Linked DNA regions of Homo sapiens. The protein of the gene in region 1 interacts with the protein of each later gene in a pairwise test. Each region holds a gene or a part of one and is shown in the gene's direction. Other genes may lie near its edges.

The links.
Region 2: the proteins of SCN5A (region 1) and ANKS1A interact in a two-hybrid assay, tested with the Homo sapiens proteins (one large-scale study listed by BioGRID).

The regions. Positions count from the first base shown.
Region 1 is NC_000003.12:38,642,982-38,646,999, reverse strand, and holds part of SCN5A (sodium channel protein type 5 subunit alpha), read left to right. Parts: intron 1-4,018. UniProt on the Homo sapiens protein: Pore-forming subunit of Nav1.5, a voltage-gated sodium (Nav) channel that directly mediates the depolarizing phase of action potentials in excitable membranes.
Region 2 is NC_000006.12:34,895,755-34,899,254, forward strand, and holds part of ANKS1A (ankyrin repeat and SAM domain-containing protein 1A), read left to right. Parts: intron 1-3,500. UniProt on the Homo sapiens protein: Regulator of different signaling pathways. Regulates EPHA8 receptor tyrosine kinase signaling to control cell migration and neurite retraction.

The DNA.
Region 1 (4,018 bases):
GCAGAACTTGGGTTTGAGCCCAAGTGTCAATATCTGCTGTGTACTATACCACCTCCCCAGCTCAGACCATGGGTGCCATGCAAAGTCTTTCCATTGAAGGAGAGGCGACTGGCAGCTTACCACAGGTAATAGAACTTATGGTGTCCCATCTTCCTTCTCTGTCAAGTGACATGCTGCTCTCCCATTCCCCACCTCCAATGTCTCACTAAGTGAGGTGTGCTGCCCCCTGGCGCACCATGAGAAGAAGAATGGGCAAGTTAAATTTGGGTTGGCAAGCTTGATGAAGAGCAAAGGAAAAGTGACAGATGTTTCATGGTTCTGATTTGAACCTGTTGTACTTCCAGGGACAGATGCTGACATCCAGAAGGTAGTTGGAGGGAAGGGTCCAGGTAGGAAGTATGTTCAGGATGGAGATCTGGGCTGGAAATGGAAACTTAGAGCTTTCAGCAGAGGTTGGTCATTGGAGATGTGGCACTGAGTTAGATTGCCCAGCGAGAGTGCAGACCTGGGGTTCTCACTCCTGGTGACATTAGCATCACTTGGAAAGCTTTAAGTAAAAATACCTATGCTCAGGCTCCAGCCCTAGACATGCTAATTCATTTGACCCTGGGATGAGGCCTGGGCATCGGGAGTTTTGGAAGCACCCAGGTGATTCTAACGTGGTGTAGAGGGTAAGAAGGAAGGGGGCTGAGTCAGGAGCCCAGAAATACTCCAACCATCAAAGCAGGAGAAGTCTGCAGAGAAGGCTGAAAAGGAGCAGCCAGAGAGGTAGGAGGAAAGCCAGGAGTAGGAGGCGCTGCAGAAGGCAAGGAGAGTGCCCTGCTCGGGGGGAGGGAAAGTGCCCTGTTTCTTTCTGCTGAGAGACTTAAGGTGCATTCTCAGAAGTTCATGGATAGATAGAAAAAGAATGAATAATTTAAAAAGAAGTGTCCATTAGATCGAGCCATGGTGAGGGTGCTGGTGACCTTGGTAGGAGAAACTCCACTCAGCGCCCGCAGAATGTAGGGCCCAGTACAGACAGGTTCTTGTTGAATGAATGAATGAGTGACTTGGTGGGAATGGAAGCCAGTTTGGAGTGGGTTGAGAAGCGAGCTGGAGGTGAGGACGTGGAGACAGCATGTATAGACAGCTCTTTCAAAGAGTTTGATGGTTGAAGAGGGAGGAGAGAGATAGAAGGGAGCTGGCGAGGGGTGGGGTCAGGGAGGGCTGTCGGGAGAGCCTGGAGTGGACACTGTGGGCATGCGTGTCCGTGCAGCACATCGCCATGCAGGAGCCTGGGGGAAGGCCTTTCCCTCAGTGAGGGCTGCAGGTCTGTGAGTTAAGATCGTACCAGTGAAGTGTGTAGTGGTTACTGTTTGTTCAGGGGGCAGTCAGGAAGGCCTGGGTAGAGGGAATAACTCTTTCTGTGAATCTCTGGGAGGGAGATTTTGATGGCAGGAAATGTGATTCCTGCTGGGGGTGGCAGGCAGAAAGGGAAGGGAGCCCTTGCTCTGCAGAGAGAAGGGTGTTCCAGAAAGCCGTATTTAGGGACAAGATTAAGTTGTCTAGGGCAGGTATCCAGGGTGATAGGATTGGGAGAAGGGAGCTGGAGTAAAAGCCCTGCGGCTAAATACATGAAGAAGGCAGAGAGAGGAAAAAGCAGGGCCAGTGAGTAGCCTGTGGACAGAGGCTGGGCCCCGTGGGGAGCAGACCCACGACAGGGCTGGCCAGGGCTGCAGGGGAAGCCTGGGACGGGAGAGCCCCACAGCCTGCTGCCAGCCCAGGCTGCCCTGATGCAGGGGTCTGAGGCAGAGTTCATGCCTTTGGGCCATGGAAGGTTCTAGAAGGTGTACAAGCTATAACAATTGTTCTTATGAAGTTTACATACAAGTAGGGAGATACCATTAAACCAATCCATACAGAAGATAATTTGAGATAGGGGCTAGTGCTATGAAGGAAATACAACAGGACAATGTGATGGAGAGACGTGGGGGTGACTCTAGACTGGCTGGGCAGGGAAAGCCCCTTGAAGGAGGAGACTGAACTGAGACCTGAATAACATGAAAGAACCAAGCCCGAGGAGGTCTAGGGAAAGAATGTTACAGAGGGAACTGCAAGTGCAAAGGCCCTGAGGCAGGGGCAAACTCTGTGGGTTGGAGCAGAGGGAATAGGGTAGGGATGGAGAGGTTCTGTGCCTCTGTTTCTGACCCACCCCTTCAGACTGCCCATTCGGCTATGCACAGCTTACACCACTCGCCTCAGGCTGGCAGCGGTTCCTGGGGATGAGACTATTTTTAGACACAACTCTCCTATCCGTGGGCCTAGAACATACCGTGTCTTTTTAAGATGATCAATATGGAATGACGCTATTTATAGAGACCCCACATCAATTCTCAGAGCCTGGGAGCCCCAGTGTGGGGACAGTCCCAGGACCAGGCTTTGTGGAGGTAGGCACCACCCCTGGCACAACACTGAGGCCATCTGACATCAATTCTTTAACACTTATCTTACCTTCTCCACCCCGCCTGCCGTCACTTGTCTTCCCTGAAGAGCCACAGCCATGGGCTGGGGAGCTTGGTACCCACAGCCTCCCCCTGCAACTTCATTTCCCCAAGGGGTACCTGGTATGCCCCAAGTCCAACATAAAATTTAGTTGTGATTTGCGAAGCCAGAGTCTGATAGAACAGTTTCTCAACCTCTCTTGTCCATTCCTCACTCTGTTTACTATTCTGGAGGGGCAGAAAAGGACAGTGAAAATTCTTAAGACCTCCTAGGTTCGCCTCAGAGGGCCAGGGAGAGATCCGCCCAGGACAGGAAGAATGTAAGGTTGAACTTAGGGGCTGAGCTTCCCTGGTGGGAGGTCATTGTGGCCCAGAGCAGCCAGGCGAGACTGCCTGGAACAGGTGGGACTGGTACCCCTCCACAGAGGATGCACAGAATTCAGAGAGGTGAATGCCCAGATCATGTGACTGGGCCTGTTGTCAGGAGAGAATGTCTATGCACTGAGGCTTCAGTTCTTTCTCTCCTCTTCAGTTTCTTCTTCTGTTTAAATCTCCTAGGGAGGCAATGGAAAGTCATGTCCCCACAGAGGTATTAGCAGAGTGGAGGGATGGAGCTGCTCTCGCAGCATCTCTGTGTGCCCAGGAGGGTCTCTTGTCCACTCAGAAACCCCTGTCATCATCACCAAGGGCTTTCCTTGGCCTCCTAACAGCCCTGGGTGGCCAAGGCTGGTGCTGGCTGCCCCATAGGCTCAAGGTCACACGGGGAAGTGGGCAGAGCTCAGACAGGACTTCACCCTTACCCTTGCCCAGGGAGCCCCCGTGGTTTCTGGGAATGGATTTTGAACAGGAGAGAGGCTTCTCCTGGCACCAGGAGAAAGGTAAATGCCGTTCTGGTAGGTATTGATTCCTCGAAGGCCTGTGCAAGGCAAGAGGCCGCTTTCAAAGAGTTGGCAGAGCAGAGAGAGGTAATCTGGCTTCAGGCACCAAATCAGTTCTCAGGGTACTCAAGCTACATTAGCCATCCCCCTACACTCAGGCTTGGCTGGGAGGTACCCCAAATGATCTAAGATGGGGGAAAAATCAGACCATGGGTGGGACCAGCCAAGCCCAATCAGTGCACCCTGCCTGGCCATCAAAGCCCCAGCCTCATCGACCTGGGCCAAGCGCAGGAAAGTGGCCCAGACAAGCCCCTCAGAGCCAAGGTGCCCGCCCTTGGCTGCGCAGCTCTGCTGCCTCTGGGCATGCTCCTAGGAAGAACCCCAGCCCCGCATTCATTCTGTACTGAGCCCAGGGCTCCACTCAAGGGACACCAGCTGGTGTGGGGTACAAGGAGGCTGAGGGCCAGAGACCACCCACCCCAGCCTCTGTTCCTCATGTTCTGCTCATAGACGTGGTCAGAAGAAGACACGGGAGCTCAGCCGGCCATTTGCAGCGACAGCCTCACCACTGTGCTGGGTCAGATGCAGCACAGACTGCCAGTTAAATAAAGCGACAGCTAGTTGCCAGCAAAACTGGAAACCCAAGGAAAGCCCCCACTT
Region 2 (3,500 bases), on another chromosome or scaffold:
AAAATAGTTTTTCAAGAATGTCTTTCTTTTTTTTTTTTTTTTTTTTTTTTTCTGAGACAGTGTCTCTCTCTCTCGCCCAGGCTGGAGTGCGATGGCACGATCTCGACTCATTGCAGCCTCCACCTCCCGGGTTCAAGCGATTCTCCTGTCTCAGCCTCCCGAGTAGCTGGGATTACAGGCGCACGTATTTTAGTAGGGACGGGATTTCACTGTGTTGCCCAGGCTGGTCTCGAACTCCTGAGCTCAGGCAGTCTACCCTCAGCCTCCGGAAGTGCTAGGATTACAGGCGTTAGCCACCGTGCCTGGCCTTTTTTTTTTTTCTTTTTTTTTTCAGAGACAGTGTCTCACTCCTTCATCCAGACTGGAGTACAGTGGTGCAATCTCAGCTCACTGCAACCTCTGCCTCTCAGGTTCAAGTAATTCTTGTGCCTCAGCCTCCTGAGTAGCTGTGATTACAGGCATGCACCACTGCACCTGGCGAATATTTGTATTTTAGTAGAGACAGGGGTTTCACTATGTTGGCCAGGCTAGTCTCGAACTCCTGACTTCAAGTGATCTGCCTGCCTCGGCCTCCCAAAGTGCTGGAATTACTACAGGTGTGAGCCCCCACGCCCAGCCAAGAATGTCTTAAAATACTCCCTTTAAGTGTGATTTTGTTGGGAGGGCAGCCCTGTTCCTGCATTTTGGAATTGCTGTACTTACATTTTTGCTTTCTCTAAAGCAGAGTGTGGTTCCCATGTTAAAAAACAAAAGGAAACAAAAAAAGGTAACATGCTTGGAAATGACTTTTGTGGTAGTTACTTTATATGTAAAAATCTAGAAGGTGCCTAATCTTAAACTGAGTAAGGCATTTACTTAGAATTAAAGATAATTTACCCAGCCTGGGCAACATGGCAAGACCTCGTTTCTACAAAAAATAAAAAAACTAGGCCAGGCGCAGTGGCTCACGCCTGTAATCCCGGCACTTTGGGAGGCTGAGGCGGGTGGATCACCTGAGGTCAGGAGTTAGAGACCAGCCTGGCCAATATGGTAAAACCCCATCTCTATTAAAAATACAAAATCAGCTGGGTGTGGTGGCCTGCATCTGTAATCCCAGCTACTTGGGAGGCTGAGGTAGGAGAATTGCTTGAACCTGGGAGGCAGAGGTTGTAGTGAGCCAAGATCGTGCCATTGCACTCCAGCCTGGGCAAAAAAGAGCGAAACTCCATCTCAAAAAAAATAAAAATAAAAAATTAGCTGAGTGTGATGGCATGCACCTGTGGCCCCAGCTACTCAGGAGGCAGAGACGCAAAGGTGGGAGAATTGCTAGAGCCCAGAAGGTGGAAGGTTGAGGCTGCAGTGAAAAGAAAATTTACTACAAAGTTTAAGATTTAAAGTCAGTGGTCTCCCTTTTTCCTGCATCCTCCAATTGAAGTTCAGTTTTTACTTTCTTAGTTGCAAAAATTAGAGACAGGAAACAATGAAACAAGCTTGTGATCTGAAGAATTTGACTTGTATCTAGTAGCTTCAGCATGTTCACGGGTCATAGGAGGTTATGGTCCCAGTGAAAGTTACATTCTTGGCCAGAAAAATCCCTTCAGGAGGTTCTTTTTCCCACATTGGATTGTTCACCCCAAACAGCTGTGAATTCTGGTTTGCAAAAGGAAGTCCAGGCTATTTCTGCCCTAGTCTTTCATAGGGAAAGTAAATTACTGGGTTTTTAGCCCAGAAACACTAAGGAAACCCCAGAAGTAGACAGTGGAGAGTTTGTTCTTAGAAAAATCAGGCTCTCCTGTGGGTAGGAACTTGGTCTCTTTTTTGGAGAGCTCTCAGAAAATATTTCCCACACTGATTTCCAAAGGATTATTGGGAGATTTTCTGTGGTAGAGAAAATTATATCGTATAATATGTTACATTCATAGAACATCTTCACATAACTTTGGTGTGGTTAGAGTTAATGGTAGTAATACTGGAAATTATATGGTATGTCTTCATATTTATCCTTTCTCAGTAATTTGTAGATCAAGTTTGTTTAGTTTACAAATCAAAAAAGAGTTTTTAAAACAAGTCAGTTGTCTCTGCTTTGAAACAAGATAGTTGTATCTGTTTGTGATATTATTACCACTGATCCAGGAAGCAGAACTGCCTCCTGGCCTACTTAAGTGGTGAGGACATACTATGGTGGCTAAGGATCAGGTTCTGACCCAACTCTGCCTTGTGACTTAGGCAAATTAAGTCACTTTTCTGCGCCTCTGTGTCTTCATATATATAATGGGCCTGGGATGGTGCCTATCTTCTAAAGCAGCATTAAATGAGCTAAAGGATGTAAGGCATATAATGCCTGGCACATGGCAAGGGTTTGGTAACCCTCAGCTGCTAGAATCATCTAATGGGAGCCAGGTGCTTGCCACCCTTGATGAATCAGAGTGAGGACCCTGTTAAGGACATATCTTTTATTGATGTTGCCATTTTAACATTTATAATAATTCACAGCAGAAGCTCCCAACCTTTTAAACTATGAAGAGTCCCATAGTTTTAAAAAGCCTGAAAATTGGCAATGGTGGCAAAGTTACAAAGCAATCCAGGTCCACAATCCTTTGTTTGAAACCTTGGGGCCAGATATGTTTTCAGGGTGCTGACTCAATATTGTATATTGAGTCCCTAGTGGGACTGTGGCAGCACCCTGGAAACATTGTATTTCTACAGCAAAACCTGTAAATATTGACTAAATGGGATAAATATGAAGCCGCTTCATATCAGCGTAGGTCAGGTTTTGCAGCTAAATGACTGCTGCTAACTTATGAAAATATATTTTCAGAGCTTTTTGGATTTCTGAATTGTTGATAAGGGACTGTAAACCTCTGCCTTTATGGTAGAAAAATTGCAAGACAAAGAAATGCACTAAGAAGAAAATAAAATCAGTTATAATTTTACCACCTACAGAAATTAACTTGAAATTTTGGTGTACAATCTTGTTTTTTTCTGTGCAAACTTTTTTTTTTAACAGAAATGACATTATTTTGTATATACTTTGTCTCATGTTTTCACGAACTATATTGTGAAAACACTTTCCTATATTTTCTGTCCTCCTCAACCTCATTTTAAATGGATGTGATATCCGTGGTATATATGAATTGTAATTAATTTAACCCCTTTCCTGACATGGAACATGAGTTTGTTTTTCGTTTTTTGCTATTAGAACAGCTCTGTGATGAACATGCATGTGGATAAGTTTGTGTGTACATTCTGCTTATAACATTTGATATATTCAATAGAATGGTAGGTGTAGTTTCAACATTCAGCCATTGCAGAAATCAACAGCTGAATATTCAAATTGCACCTCAAAATCAACAAGAAACATACATGTTGTTGAATTTGAGGACTCATAGTAATTCTGAGGCCCCTTACATCTCCTGGGTCCTTCTGACTGGGAAGTAATATACTGATTTATGGTTGCTAAATACTACTTATATTCAGAAAGTAACCTTTGTGCAAGCCCAGGACTTTTTAATGGTTAACTT